Regions from separate parts of the Homo sapiens genome. Here region 1 is linked to region 2. The links come from fine-mapping of genetic effects on gene expression. A gene starts in region 2. The other region holds a variant in brackets. All regions are shown on one strand. Distances are from middle to middle.

Evidence for each region. PIP is the estimated chance that this variant, and not a neighbour inherited with it, causes the effect.
Region 1: its variant is fine-mapped to the expression of ADAM32 in hypothalamus (GTEx, PIP 0.96).

What each region holds. Positions count from the first base shown.
Region 1 is chr8:39,274,724-39,283,069 of GRCh38, reverse strand. ADAM32 (ADAM metallopeptidase domain 32) reads right to left here. Exons shown (of 25, transcript NM_145004.7): 22 at 7,204-7,242; 23 at 1,896-1,934. Among named protein-coding and RNA genes, the nearest start is that of ADAM32, 170 kb to the right of the region's middle. The variant C/T (reference allele first, on the strand shown) is at 4,038.
Region 2 is chr8:39,103,075-39,111,420 of GRCh38, reverse strand. ADAM32 (ADAM metallopeptidase domain 32) reads right to left here and starts at 3,687. Exons shown (of 25, transcript NM_145004.7): 1 at 3,588-3,687. The coding sequence starts at 3,645. ADAM9 (ADAM metallopeptidase domain 9) reads right to left here. Exons shown (of 22, transcript NM_003816.3): 22 at 6,160-7,814. The coding sequence ends at 7,721.

The sequences.
Region 1 (8,346 bases), 170 kb before region 2:
AAAAGAATGGGGGAGAAAAAGAATGAACTGAAGACAAATTAATCAAGATTAATTCACAGAGAAGATAATACAATATAAGTGAGAGTATTCAGTGATAATGCACAATTTTACTTCTTTCGTCCTTTCCCTACCTTTGCTATTTTATATCTTCAAAACTTACTGTTGATTTTTCCTACTACTCTGACCATGAAACATTCTTATTTAATATAATTAGTTATCTCCCAAACCAATAAAAAGATCTGTATTTATAGACATATGAGTCTACTGAAATGTACACCCATTAGATTTCTGGCTTAAAAAAATATATTGTTTCATTATGTTTACCCAAGGAATTGGCTCTACCAACATCTCCCACTGGCTTCCCAACGGCAACAAAAATACTAAAAATATAAATGTAAAAGGAACAGAAATACAAGAAAATACAGTAAATGCTCTAACAGTAAAGGACAGCAACTATGTCTGCTTAGCTTACTAAGTTTAAGTGAAAGAATAATCACCAAATACCTTTCTGGGTATGCTAAACACAAAGTTAGAATAATGGGTTAACATTCCAAATTATACTCCCCAAATCCAGTGTATATTACCCTATAGATGATGCCCTTGTCTATCCCTCAATCTAGTTGAATTTATTACTTTTAAAAAGGATGATTATGATATGATTATGGCATATTTTATGAGGAGAGATAATGTAAGGGGACAATTAGAGTAGTTACACCACTAAGAATTATATGTGCATATGTGAACTTCAAGAGAAACCACTCATTCGTTAAGCAAGTATTTATTGAGCATTAACCCTGCAAGATGCTACCTATAAATAGGTAGGGAAAATAAACATGGACTTGACCCTCAAGTGATTTCAGAGCCTAAAAGGAGAGTAATGCTTCTAGGTGAGCAGAAGATTGGGAGAATTGCAGTGTTTGAGCACTCTATCACAACTCCCTTGGTGACAGTGACGGAGAGTGGAGACAACAAAGAAAATCAGCTTTTTTCTCAAACATAGCTTAGAGAAAGTAACTGATGACTGTAAAAGGGTGCTTATGTTAGGAGACATCCAAGAACAACAGAAAGGATAAAGGAGACAGAAATACTGTAGCTTTCCTAATGGATGGGGTGCCTTCATTGGGGAAAATACAAACCATATAATGTTTTGGTGTAGCCTAGAAAATTTAATCTGTGTGTATAAAGGATATTTTGGAATAGCAGTGGGTTGAATGTAACTCAAAGAGGTCACTTTAAGGAAAAATACTAGGCAATATAAGAAAATGAAAACTCTACAATGGAGAAACCATGACGAACATAGCAGTAAATATTTGATAACTTCAGAAGGATCACAAAGCCACAACTGTGGGGTGTAGGAAACCAAAAGCTTCTCTAAACGAGTTCAGAGAACCCTTGTTAACATAGGTGTGGGACATTGAGGATCTGTGGGAAATGTAGAATTTTAGTGTGTTTATAATACTGTCTCCTAAACTCTTCCTAAGTGGAAATAATCATTCGCTCAGTTGTTCACATTGAGTTTTTGGGGGTGTAAATGCAACCTGAAAAAGTACTATTTCCCCTTTGTGTATCCCAGAATAAAGGATGCAAAATGTTCAGCTTATGATTTAGTTTCACAAAGTAATCATAAATATTTGTCTCTTATTAAATTTCACTAGCTTATTTCTTATGTACCACAAGAGTAGGCAATCAACAAAAATTTAGTCAACTGAAGAAAAAAGATTAATGGAATTAATTAATGCTTGTAGAATGGGAAATATTAATAAGTTGGGTTTGGTGTAGACTTTATCGATTGTGGCTGCTCAAAAAATGTTGAGCAATTATTTGTGAATTATCAACTTTTTCATTCTGAATTTTCAACATACTTATTTATAAGTAACACTTTCTATCCTGCTTACCTGCTAGTATATGCTTCAGCACTATCTTCTGATTTGGATCTAAAAATAAATTAAAAACAATATATATTAAATATCTATTATTAAAAATAAATTGGCCAGGCGCGGTGGCTCATGCCTGTAATCCCAGCACTTTGGGAGGCTGAGGCGAGTGGATCACAAGGTCAGGAGATCGAGACCATCCTGGCTAATACGATGAAACCCCGTCTCTACTAAAAATACAAAAAATTAGCCAGGTGTGGTGGCGGGCGCCTGTAGTCCCAGCTACTCGGGAGACTGAGGCAGGAGAATGGAGTGAACCCAGGAGGCAGAGCTTGCAGTGAGCCAAGATCACGCCACTGCACTCCAGCCTGGGAGACAGAGCAAGACTCCATCTCAAAAAAATAAAAATAAACATAAATAAAAATAAAAATAAATTAAAAACAATATCTGAAAGTTAACACTAAGAGCTTGCCTACTTTGAGAATGAAAAACAGGCCATTTTATAGCACCAAAACTAATTATTTAAATATGTGGGGCATGCAAATAAATAGCATTCTTTTTTACTCAAACACCAAATGCAACATATAGTACAAAATGTAAATTCTCTAGTAGAGAATCAAGAGTATCAAGATAGCAGAGGTTTTTCAAATTACTTCGAAGTTAATGTAAATTTAACTGTAAATGTCTAAACCTGTTCTTCAGCCTCCAAGTTAGTTTTGTATTTGTTAATATATAAATTGCAGCAGTTTGTAAATTAAAACTTACATTTACTTCTGACCAGTTTGGCAGACTGGACAAATAGTAAAACTTATCCTTTCTATTAGATACATAGAGAAAAGCTGAAGAAAACAAAAAACGTATGCATAACTAAGATTGACAGTCACAAAGGGTTTTCCTTCTACCATTTAAAAAAAAATAAATTAGAAGCTCAGAGGGAAAACAAGAGCTAAAGCTGAATTACTTATACCCTAAAAGATGTGGTTTTCATAACCCTAGCTTGGAAGGAGTTGAGGGCATGGATCTTTACGTGTTAGAAAGCTGCAATGGAGCAGTTTCCCAAGCCTGGTAGTCTTTAATGGAAATATTAAAAGCTATGACCACTGCACTTCAGAACACAACTAGCAAATTTTCTCAGGCAAGTGAAAAGAAAAGGATCATCTAGAGATGCAGAAATCACAGGCCTGCACCACGCAGTGCAGACCTCAGCTGCTCAGTTCCACTACTCGCAAATCTGAAAGAGCAAGCATGGAAAACATTACAACATTCATGCCCCAGGAGAGGCAAACCTGAAATACTCTCATCCTCCCAATGCATGCCTCTACAACTCAGGGCATGCAGAAGTCCCATGAGAACAATCACTGCCCTTGAGGGTGGGCTTATCAACCTAAATTGCAAAACAAAAATTCACACATCAAGATCAACAGATAATATAAAAATCTTCAAAATTGAAATATTTAGGATCTCCACACAAATCAAGGCAGGACTGAGGCAAAAAAAAATAGCTATTAAGAAAACGGAGGATTTGGAAACTGATATAAGGAAGTGAAACAATGTCAGATAGAGAGGTAGAAAGATGTAATACATGAAGAACCCAGTTAAGAAACATGGATGCTAGTCCGGGCATGGTGGCTCACGCCTGCAATCACAGTACTTTGGGAGGCCGAGGCGAGTGGATCACAAGGTCAGGAGTTCAAGAAGAGCCTGGCCAAGATGGTGAAACCCCGTCTCTACTAAAACTACAAAAATTAGCCAGGCGTGGTGGCAGGTGCCTGTAAGCCCAGCTACTTGGTAGGCTGAGGCAGAGAATTGCCTGAACCCAGGAGATGGAAGTTGCAGTGAGCTGAGCTCGCGCCACTGCATTCCAGCCTGGGCAACAGAGACTCCGCTTAAAAAAAATAAATAAAAGACGAAAGAAACATGAAGGCTAAAATGAGAAGACCCTCCTAAATATAATCATTTCCAGTGGAAAAAAGAGAAAGAATGAGAAAGAGTCAATAATTGAAGACATAATGACTGAATTAATTTTTTAGATTTAATGACCTGAGTCCTGATATCTAAAGACTATATTGAATCTAGAGCTGGATAAATAAAAACAAATTCTATCAGAACATATAATCATAAAATAACAAAACATTTGAGACAAAAAGGAAAACTTAGAAGCCA[C/T]CTAGAAAAAGCACATTAATTGAGGGGGGAATAAATAATGATACTGACAACTAAGGTCTCATCAATGACAGTACATGGCACATTACAACAACAGAATATTACAAAACGCTTTCAGAAAAGTCCTTCTCAGCTAGGAGTAACCATTTAAGCTATCATTCAAAATTCAGTGTGGATAAAAAAAGCATGTTCAGGCATTTAACACAAATGTTGATAATACAGAATCACTAAACTGAAACTAAAAGGGTTGTAAAAAGGAAACTAAACCCATAATGAAAAATCAATGGATTCAACAATAAATAGTGAGAGCAAAGCAACTGATAAATACGTTTTAAGCTCTTAGCAGGTATTAATTTAATATAAAAATGATTATAATAATAGTAATAATAATAATAATAATGGAGGGTAGGGTTCTGTAGGTAAAAACCTGGAAGAAGCTAAAAGCCAAATGACAATAATATGGGAGAGTAATGTTAAGAGTTTGCTGATAAATTGTCAAAGATTCTTCTGTTGCTTAGGAAAAGACTGGAAATACTGAAAGAATTTAGACATTTAAAATAATTACACTAAAGTAGTACTAATGTGACCCATACTGGTGATGGGAACAGGTGGCAGAGAAATTCTAGGCAGAAAAGGGTGGGTCTCTGGCAAAAGCGCCACCCTCAAGCCGAAAAGCCGGAAACCACCATCCAAAGAGAGAATTTCTATCACTGTTTTCCTGCTCAACCTAAACCACCCATGGCCCTGCCCCTCCCCATTCTGTGCCTATAAAGACCCCAGACTCAGTTGGCAGAGACGAGAGGCAGCTGGACGTCAGGGACTATGGCTGGATGTCGGAGAGAAGGGGCTAGACTTCAGAGGGACAGCTTGATGGCATAACTTCAGAGAAGAGTCCAGCCCGAGGTGGCTGGACTTGAGGGGAAGATTTCCTGCCCATCCCCTTTTCAGCTCCCCTTCCCGCTGAAAGCCACTTTCATTATTCAATAAAATTCCTCACATTTATCATCTTTCAATTCATTCATGCAACCTCATTTTTCCTGGATGCCAGACAAGAGTTTGGGAGCCACAAGTGTGGATTCAAAAGGCTGTCACACTGTCCCTTCGCCCTCACTGGTGGAGATCAGCCGCCTCACTTGAAAAGGCAGAGGGCCTACTGAGCTGTTAATACTTAAGCTGTCCAAGCTAAAAGAGCACTGTAACACGCCCTCTGGGGTTTTCGGAGTCACAGGCACCCTGCCTGGATACCGCTGCAGGGCCTGCACAGAGTTCGCCCCTGCCGGCGCCCAAAAGTGCTGGCTGTGGCTCCTGCACCTGCTCACCTGCATGCTCCCTCCCGAGTGGTGGAGCGCAGTGGGTCCCAGTGAGTGGAGTTTGATCCCGCCCAGCCAGGGCTGAAATGGCCGGCTGGTTCCAGCGCTCCTGCACTCTAGCAGCTCCCACCTCGTTCACCCACGCGTTCCCTCCGATGAGGAGTCAGGAGGCTGAGTAAACGAGGCACCCCTGTCATGAGTCCCCTGAAGGGGTCAGGGAAATATCCTGCTTCACTGGAATTCATTCCATCTCTCTGCTTTCTTTGGCTTCAACTTCCCACCAGTTAAAGGTTACTCCAAAGATAAATGACATGAAAACTATGGTGGATGTTATATCACTAAAGCACAGCCACCATGTCAAATGATGTTACTAAAATTCAAATGAATAGTTATTCTAAAATGATTCCCTGGTGCACGGTAAGCCAGAAGGCTAGACCAGTGGTTTAACATTGCAAATTAAACGATGTCTATTGAAATGTACATTTTCCTATGGGTGATGCTATCACCCCTCACTGAATGGAGGTAAATAACCCTGGGAGAGATGAATTATGTTAACAGGGTTTCAGGGTGAGAGATGATATATTGAGCGAAGAAGAAATGGAGGAAGCGACAACATCATCATGGATATATGAATGTGTGTGCATGCATGCATGTGAACACATATATATATAGATTTGTCTATGTACCTTTGTGTTTCTGTTTTTGTTGGTTTGGTTGCCTCTGTGTGAAGATCAAAGGTAGTCATTCATTCATTCCTTCAACAAATATTTATTGATCACTTATAATATGAGCCGAGCACTCTGCTACATGCTAGCTATACAATGCTGAGCAAGATAGACATAGCCTTTATTATCTGAGATGACAGAATATAATAAGAGAAAAAGGTCACTGAGGCTCGCTGGGCCTGATCCCTATATGGTAACTCCCTTGCTCACAATAATAAGAACAGACATGATAATAAAAATCAAAATTTTAAAGATAAACTCATGACTCCAACGTGCCACTGTAAGGAAAAAAATAATGAGGCAGATTAAAAATGAGCAACGCAGGCATTCTTATTGAAGAGGTAAATTTCTTCTGGAACAAAAGAAATCATACAACCTTGTTGTGCAGCTTAGAGAGTTTGTCCTGTGGATTTGGATGTGTTTGGGAACAGCAGTGGGCTTGGAGCAACCTAGAAAGAATAACACTAGCCCCCTATAAATGTATATAAAAACTGTAACTCAGAGAGGGAGCAGTAAAAACTTCAAAGCATTTTATATCTGCAGAAGGACCTAAAACCCACAATTGCTGAGTGTGAGGAACTAGATACTTACTGAGTTATTATAAAAAGACATCCACCTTTCAGGAAATGGACAGGGACCTAGTAATACTGAGAACAATGAAAGATGTGGAATTTTTGTTCCTTTGTGATGCTTTTTTTTTTTTCAACAAATTCTTCCCAGGTGATCTATGCGAGCATTCACTCAGTTATTCATCAGCATACATATTAGTTTCTAGTTGTGCCATCTCCAAATAAAAAAGTAAACTTCCCCTTGGTGTACTCCAAGAAAAAGAATACAAAAAGATCCTTTTTATGAATTAGCTCCTTAAACATTTCACCAAAAATGTTTTCCTTTGTTTCCCAAAAATAAACTCCCAACACATATTAACTAAACTGCAGGAAAGAAGATATTGTCTTATTTAGACAAATACTCGCAAGTTACTAGATCAGCAAATAGGTTGTTTTAAGGTACAGTACTTTACTAATTGTGGCTACTCAGTTAATAGTTAGCAAGTAATTGTTAATTATCAATTTGTTCATCTCAATTTTTAACATATACTTATTATATAAAAAAAATGCCCCCTAATTCACTTACTTGCTAGTATCAGCTTGACTGCTGCTTTCTGATCTGGTTCTAAAAGAAAGCGAAAAAGTAATGCTTCCACGTTAATACTTAACACAAATGTGCCTCCATAATGAATGAATGTCGGATCATTTTACAACCTGTGTTAATTCTTCTCTACCAAGAATCACCACTGAAGAATAATTTCAAAAGACTACTAAATTAGCATATGCAAACAAGTTTTTATTTATTCATATACAATGTCCATAAAAAGTTTAAATTTCAAATATTCAACTAAGCAGAGGAACAAGAAAACTGATTTGTTTTTCTCCTTTCACTTTCTAGCACAGAATACATGCTTTATTTTAAATGCCTGATTCTGGCCTTCAGAGTCTATCCGTTGATAAATACATTGCTGTAGGTTGTGATTCAAAATCCACACTAATGTCAAGAAGACTGAACTGATGGGGAGGTGTGGTAATTTCCCCTCCTATACCACACACAGAGAAATAGTGCAAAACAACACATACTATTTACTAAAACTTTATGAAAGAAAAGGCCATTTCTAGTGATAGTAACAGAGAGAGAGAGAATTGAAAATGCGAAAGGTAAATACAAACTAAATCTGAATGACTTTGGGGGTACACAAGTCAGTTTCATAAGCCACATCAGCTTATCAAGAGTTGAGACTTCCTAGAAAGATGAAGCTGACCTCCTTCTCTAAACCTGGAAGCCCTGAAAGGCTGTACCACCCATGAAATGGGGATAGTAAAAGCTGTGGCCACTAGACACAGAGATGCATCAGGGAAATTGCTTCAGAAGTAGAGATGAAAAATGAACACCAGGAGGCACGGGAACCCGGAGCACTTAAATTGGCTTAGGAATTTGGATGGAAAAATCATCACACAGAGAAACAGGAGCCTTAATTCTTTACACGTATAGGATAAGGACACCACTCCATGCTTCCCATGAACTCCAGTGTAACAGTTAATGTAAAAATTTATCACACAGGAGGGTAAAACATGACCTCCACAAGGAGTCTTCTGCAAAGCACAGTAGGTTTGTTTACACCAGCATCACCACAAACAAGTGAGTAATGCATTGCTCTCTGATGTTGTGATGGCTACAACATCACTAGGCTGTAGGAATTTTCACCTTCATTATAATCTTATGGAA
Region 2 (8,346 bases):
AATCAAAATCTAAGCAAGCTATTTTGTGGATATCAACCAACATATTCTACTGTTTACATGAGGAGGTAAAAGACCCAGAATAGCCAACTCATTATTGGGGGATAACAAAGTCCAGAAGAGGAAATGGACATACCTATACCACTGAGCCTAACAGTTTCTTTGTAAGTACATATCCAAGAGAAATGAAAACATATGTCCACACAAAAACTGGTACATGAAGGTTCCTAGCAGCATTACTCCTAACAGCCAAAAGTTGGAAACAATCAAATGTCCATCAACTGATGAATCAGTAAACAAACGGGTGAATATATACAATGAAATATTATTCAGTCACAAAAAGGAATGAAGTTCTAATGCATTCTACAACAGAGACGAACCTTGAAAACATTATGCAAGTGAATTAAGCCAGACAAAAAAGGTCATATTTTGTATGATTCCATTTATACGAAATACCCAGAATAGATAAATCCAAAGGGACAGTGGCTGCCAGATAAATCCAAAGCAGATCAGTGGCTGCCAGGGGCTGGAAGCAGGAGGACATGAGGAGTGACTGCTTAATGTGAAAATGCCATCCCCAAATTGCTGAGCAAGATCCCTCAGCTGATGGGACCATCAGCAGTTTGGAGCTGGCATTTTCATTTGAAAGTTTAAATTCTCTCTTCTGAGTTATAATAAAAAAGACAGCCAGGATTTCTTGCACTTGTAGTTATGCATATAATTTATAATATGACAGCATTAATAAAAGAAGTTCTCATTCATTGCTGGGGTGAATGCAAATGGTACAGCCACTTTGGAAGACAGCTTGGCAGTTTCTTTAAAAACTAAATATACTCTTATCATATGATTCAGCAATAGCATTTCTTGGTATTTACCCAAATGAGTTGAAAACTTATGTCCACACAAAAACCTGCACATAGATGTTTATAGCAGCTTTATTCATAACTGCCAAAGCTTAGAAGCAACCAAGATGTCATTTGGTAGGTAAATGGATAAATAAACTGTGGTAGATCCAGACAATTGAATATTATTCAGCACTAAAAATAAAAAAGCGGCCGGGTGCAGCGGCTCATGCCTGTAATCCTAGCACTTTGGGAGGCCAAGGTGGGTGGATCACTTGAAGTCAGGAGTTCGAAACCAGCCTGGTCAACACAGTGAAACCCCATCTCTACTAAAAATACAAAAAAATTAGCTGGGCATGGTAGCAGGCACCTGTAATCCCAGCTATTTGGGAGGCTGAGGCAGGAAAATTGCTTGAACCGGGAGGCGGAGTTTGCAGTGAGCCAAGATCCTGCCACTGCACTCCAGCCTGGGCGACAGAGTAAGACACCATCTCAAAAAAACAATTAAGTAAGTAAATAAGCTATCAAGCCATGAAAAGGCATGGGAGAACCTTAAATGCATATTATTAAGTAAAAAAAAAGTCCATCCAAAATGGCTACATATGATTTCAAATACATGACACTCTGGAAAAGGCAAAACTAAGAAGACTAAGGAGATGAGTTGTTGCCAGGGGCAGTGGGGAGGGAGGGATAAATAAGCAGAACACATGGGATTTGTAGGGCAGTGAAACTATTCTGTATAATACTACAATGGTGGATGCATGTCATTGTACATTTGTCAAAACCATAGAATGGGCAATGTGGAGAATGAACCCTAATGCAAACAAACTGTGGACTTTGGATGATAACAATGTGTCAGTGTAGGCTCAATTGTAACAAATGGATCCCATGGTGCCAGATGTTGATAGTGGGAGAAGCTGTTCATATTTGGGATCAGGGGCTATATGGGAACTCTTTCAGCTCAATTTTGCTATGAACCTAAACGTACTCTAAAAAATAATGTTCATTAATATTTTTTTTTTATTTTATTTTTTGAGATGGAGTTTTGCTCTTGTCACCCAGGCTGGAGTGCGATGGTGCCATCTCAGCTCACTGCAACTCCTGCCTCCTGGGTTCAACCGATTCTCCTGCCTCAGCTTCCCGAGTAGCTGGGATTACAGGCACGCACCACCACGCCCAGCTAATTTTTTTGTATTTTAGTAGCAATGGGGTTTCACCATGTTGGCCAGGCTGATTTCAAACTCCTGACCTCACTCAGGTGATCCACCTGCCTCAGCCTCCCAAAGTGCTGGGATTACAGGCGTGAGCCACCACGCCTGGCCGTTACTTTTATTTTTAATGAATGAAATACACATTCTTACATTTCTATTTTAATTTCTAATATGTTAAACATCGATATAAATCCACATAAACAAAAGCTCTTTGAGAATCTCAAAAATTGTTCATGTATAAGGCAGTTCTGAACCCAAAAACTTTGACAACCACTGCATTAAAATTTTGTATGTGTTATGAACTGAATGTATCCCACAAAATTCTATGTTGAATCCCTAACCCCCAATGTGACAGTATTTGGTTATGGCCTTTGGGAGGTAATCAGGGTTTTAGGCATAGAGTGGGACCCTCATGATGAGATTCATGCCCTTATAAGATGAGACATCAGAGAATTTCCTCCTCCTGTCTTTCCCTGTACACAAAGAAAAGGTCCTGTGAGTACGCAGGGAGAAGGTAGCTGTTTACAAGCCAGGAAGAGAACACTCACCCTAATCTAACCAGGCTGACACCCTGGCCTTGACCACACCTCTGCTATGCTGCAGAGGTAATTATGGCAGGATAGGAAGAAGAGTAGGAAGAGTTCTCAAAAATTTACAGTATCACCAGGGAGGCTTACATGCAAGTAAAATGTTTGGATATGCCCGTATTTTTTTCCTTCTCTTATTACATACTATTCTGAATCTTGTCAGCCAGAGTCAGTACATGGCATGTCTTACTTCCTCCCTCTCCACAGTGGTCCATTTGCATTGTTTGGAGATAACCACAGTTTATTTAGCAGTTCTCTTACTAATGAACTTTTACAGTTTTTCAATCATTTTGCTGTTAAGTACTATATTAGTCAGCTCCCACTGCCATAACAAAATAGTGTAGACTGCATGGCTTAAACAACAGAAATTTATTTTCCTCATAGTTCTGGAGAACTACGATCTGGAGTCTCCCTCTGTTGCCTACTGTTGCCCACTGCACTCCAGCCTGGGCGACAGAAGGGACTCGGTCACACACAAAAATAATTTTTTTAATTTATAAAAAAGACAGGATCTCTGTCGCCCAGGCTGGAGTCCAGTGGGGGCGATCTTGGCTCACTGCAGCCTCCACCTCCTGGACTCACGTGGTCCTCCTCCCTCAGCCTCCCGGGTAGCTGGGATCACAGGTGCGCACCACCACCTCGGAACATTTTTTTAAATTTTTTTGTAGAGATGGGGTCTTGCTGTGTTGCCCAAGCTGGTCTCCAACTCCGAGGTCAAACAATCAGCTCGCCTCAGTCTCTCAAAGCCCTGGGATTACAGGCGTGAGCCCTGGTGCTGGGCCCTGAGTCGCTTCTCCATCCGGACGGGGCGCCTAATCCCCTGGAAAAGGCCCCGTTGCCAGGGTGACAGGACCAAAGGGACCCAGACAGGGAGGGCCCCGGGCTTTGCAGGGAGTCGGGCCGCAGTGTGACGAGCGCCCGGACTAGTGTCAGGGTCTGGGCTGGCTCACCGGGTCTTGACGCCAGGAGGCCGCAGAGCCCGGCCAGCAGCAACCAGAGGCGGAACATGGTGCGGCTTCGGGGCTGCCAGCGGGAAGCCGTTGGGAAGTCGGGAATTGCCAGGGACGCGGGGACGCGCGGACGCCGGGGGCCGCTCCCCGCACGTTCATGGGACAGCGTTCTCCGGAGGCCCCGGAGACGGGGTGCTCTCGGTGTTTAGCGTCCGGAACACGAAGGGCCCGCAGCGTGCGCCCCGAGGCTAAAACATCCAGCTCCCTTCCCGGCGCACCCCAGCCGCGTGGTTGCTGGAGCCACTGACCACCCAGCGCCCTCTGTCGAGATCGCGCTCGTAGTCCTCCACTAACTTTTCGCTTTGTGTTGCTGGACCTTAAGAACTGACACACTTATTCACAGTCAGCGTGTGCTCTCCTGCACCAGACACTTCCCAGTTGCTTTTTTTTCTTTTTGGGACGGGGGTGCTCACTATTCTGCCCAGGCTGGTCTCGAACTCCTGGGTTCAAGTGATCCTCCCTCCTCAACTTCCTGAGTAGCTGGGATTACAGGCATCTGCCACCGTTCGGGGCTTCCTAGGTCCTTTCAAAAGCGAATGTGTAATACTTTCTGAATTAAAATCTATATACACACCTAAATATATATTCATATTTGCCAAACCTGTTTCTAATATTTTTTCAAAACTATTTAGCCAGATGTGTGAACATTCCAAAGAAGGGAAAAGTGAGCCGCTTTTCAATATGAAATGCCAGCTCTTCATATTTTTGAAGAGCGCCAGCTGCATTTTTTTCCCCACTGACGCTGCCCAAATGGACTTCACAACCAGGCTTTTTCCTCCAATCTGGTTCTCCGCAGGCCATTGGCTAAAACTCATGTGATGTCATTCTATTGTTCAGAAACTTCTCAGTGCAATAAATACTTATTTCATGTAGTGAAAGATTTAGAGATTCTTGCCCACAATTACAGTAATTACATTCCAGTAGAAAATTCTAGCCTCAGCATAGTAATTTTTCTGAACTCAGACCGGAACCTGCCACTTAATTTCTCCTATCCCGTGTTTTAGCAGCTCTGACTTTGGGTTTTTCCTAAACACTGCTTTACTCCCTGGAACTGCAATGCCTCCTCCTTCCCAGCCTCACACCTGGTCTCCATCTGTATGCATTAGCTTTTCATTCTTTTCAAATCCCAAAGAATGGATTAATTTCTCATACTACATAATAGGCCAACACATAAACTAAAAGGCCTCATGGGAACAGAGAAAAATCTCACTTGGGGAACTAAGACATTTAAAGTGAAGATGTGATTTTTATGGATGCACGCAATTTCAACAGGGCAATCTACACCTGAAATTAATAGCATGAACAAAAACAAGGCAACAGGCCAGGTGAGGTGGCTCACGCCTGTAATCCCAGCACTTAGGGAGGCCGAGGTGGTTGGATCACCAGAGGTCAGGAGTTTGAAACCAGCCTGGTCAACATGGTGAAACCCCGTTTCTACTAAAAAATACAAAAATTAGCCGGGCATGGTTGTGGGCGCCTGTAATCCCAGCACTTGGGGAGGCTGAGGAAGGAGAATCGCTTGAGCCCAGGAAGTGGAGGTTGCAGTGAGCCGAGATTGTGCCATTGCCCTCCAGCCTGGGTGACGAGCAAAACTCCATCTGGGGCAGGTGGAGGGGTGGGGTGGGGAACAAGGCAACAAAAAAATACACTGAGCTTGTATCTCAATAGGAACAGCCAATGCTAAGCTAACACTGCTTTTAGGCAGCTGCTGAGCCACAGCTAGTTTCACCTTGCTTTGTAACAAACAGAAGAGCAATTACAGTAAATGCTTCAACTCATCAATTAGTGGTAAGTATTCTGAATGAATTTCTGGCTCTTGTATTATTTTGTTCTTTCTTACTCCTCAACCTTTCTGGTTTGTATCTTTAATAGGGTTGATTTTGTATTATTCTTGTGTGTATGCCTCTCTTCATAACAGAGGATGCACTTCTAAAAGTCGGGAAACATATCCTATCCAGAACTTAGATATCACAGTACCTAATACAGTGCCTGAAAAATGGTAGGTTTTAGTAAACATTTATGAAATTTAATAAAATCTGATTTGAGTTTAGAAAACCCAAATTGTGCTTAACTCTATGGTTACAGACACAGGAGAAAGCGAGAATGCAATACTCTGAACAAGGTCAGTTTGACATACAGAGTCAAACAGAGATGTCAAACTTGCATATAATTTACCCTTATTTATTCTTTTTGAAGAAAGAAAGGATGTCCTTTAATATTTTCAAATTTTGAAGTGGCATCCATGACCAAGTAAGTAAAAAACATAAAGCATATTAAAAAATATATAAAAGAAGTTCAGATCCAATAGTCTTTTTAAAAACTTAACTAGTCAAATATCCAAAGAACTATTTAATTCCAAGTGTTAAGTTACATAGTTAATACATTACCAACTGTAAAATTTCAGTGATATGCATCACAATTGCAAAAACTGAGGCTACATGAGTGAACAGCACAAACGTTTGAGTCTTATATGAATTCATTTAGAGATTTAAAATGAAACGATGGACCTTCATTTGAGATTGCTCACAATTTTTAATATGTATACTTGATTGTTAAAATAACATGCTGTCTTCAGAAAACTGAAATTTTTGCCTTCTTCAAAACTAATCTGTTCTTTATTAACAAAAAGCCATTGTGCACACTTTGGCAAAAGTCTGAAAATTAGTGAGATAATATCTGTAAAAATTTGACTAGAATTTTTATCTAAAATTATAACTTTTTAATTAATGAGATTATAAATAGTTGAGTAGGAAGCTACTAGGAGACACAAAAGAGAATTTCAAGTATTTTATTTATTGTAAATGTTGTATTTGTATATGTATATATACACAAACCAAAAACACTTTTAAAAAACTAATGAAATTCAGTTAATAAACCTATTATTAAACTTTATTATGAAAGGTTATGAAAAAATTTTTAGTGCTTAAAATTTTACGATCCATACCATATCTGCCATAGTAAAAATTCATTTTTAACACAGCTAAGATGATAACTCATAGATACCACAGTAACTTTTTTGTAGGTATTTAAGAAAACCATTTCTTCCTTCTTTCTCCAGCCTAATTTCTATGAAAATATTAGTGTCTAATATTTTACATGACCCAGCACACCTTAGTAAATGTAAACATTCTAAATGATTTAATAGCAAGCTTTGAAAGTTCAGATTTTAAAGTGCTCATGAAATTCTCAAGTGGTTTTGTAAAAGTTCAATTGATTGAAGATTTTATAATTGCTCCTGCTTTATTATAGCCATGAATCAACATATTTGATTAGATCTATTAAATACTTCGTACCTTAAAGCTTATAATTTATTTAAAATAGTGCTATTGTGAACGAATGTCATGCTTTCACATGATTCATAATAGAAATTCTAATATTAAATTAATTTCTCTAAGAGTTATTACCTATAGTTGAAAGGTCATAAAAATGGAAGCGAGTAACTGCGTGAATACACACACACTCTTTTAGTATATTTTGTACTTTCAAAATAATATGACATCTTAATTGTGGTTCTTGTGCATTCTTTTGAAGACAATATTTGCTTATTCATGTAGTGAGTGACAGACAAGATTCTAGAGTATGATGATTATTAATTCGTGCATGATGAAAAATATTAGATATTATTGGCAGCTGATTAGTCAGTTTTCACAGGTATTAGATTATCACATGTTCAATGAGGAACTACATTAATGATAACTAAGGTAGAAAATTCAGAATAACACTTAAACACTTAATGACAAAACTCTTACACCAATACAGTTAATTTGAGAATCACTGCAATAACATGTTCAAAAAATCCATGATTAGTGCATTAACCTCACCGATGACTGAATAAGACTTATTCAATGATGGAAACGGAAATGTTATTGTAAATTCCCTGGCTTTACTGCATTTCCTTGTATTTCACAACTCTCACACTCAGTTTCTGTTTTTCTGTGTTAGTGAAGTCTGTTTTGTGGTGTTTTGTTTTCATTCATAGTTGCAACAGAAAGGCTTTTCAAGAAAACATCAAGAAAAAAAAAAAGTATTAGCTCAGTTCCCTGAAGACATTTGCAAAAAGAAGGTTAAAAAAATCAAGTGAGGGAACTATATAAAGGAGGTGCAGGAGCAGGACGGGCAGGAATTAAGTTTCCCTGAGATGATACTTTCGGTTGTGGTGGAGGTGGCCTGCGAGGGGAAAAGAGATAGTTAATAGAGTGTTTAGACTGGGTGAAATAATGCCATATTCATTACAAGCTCAACATAACACCATCCTCAACATCTCTGACAACAGGAAAGGGTACTGTACATTCTGAGATCAGTATTAGGGTGATATTCAATGGCTAAAAGGCTCCAATTAGAGTCTAAAATGGAATAACTACTTTAAATAATATTACTCCATAATCAACAATGTTGTATGAAGGTTCTAGTTTACATGTTTTTTCAAAAAAAAAAAAAGCACATGAAATGGTAAAGATAAACTGTAAAAGACAAGTGAGTACACTAAGTGATCAAGCACTTGCCTGTGCTGTTAGAATTTGAGGGCAGCAAATTACTGCTGGTGTAAACCTAGCTGTTTATAGCTCCCTCAACATGAGATTCACTCTGAGAATTAAAAGTGTTATGACTTCTATACCTGTCCATCTCAAACCTCATACTTCCACCTGTGGACACCCGCTCCTAACCTCATCATCCAATTCTAGTACACCTCTACTCCAGT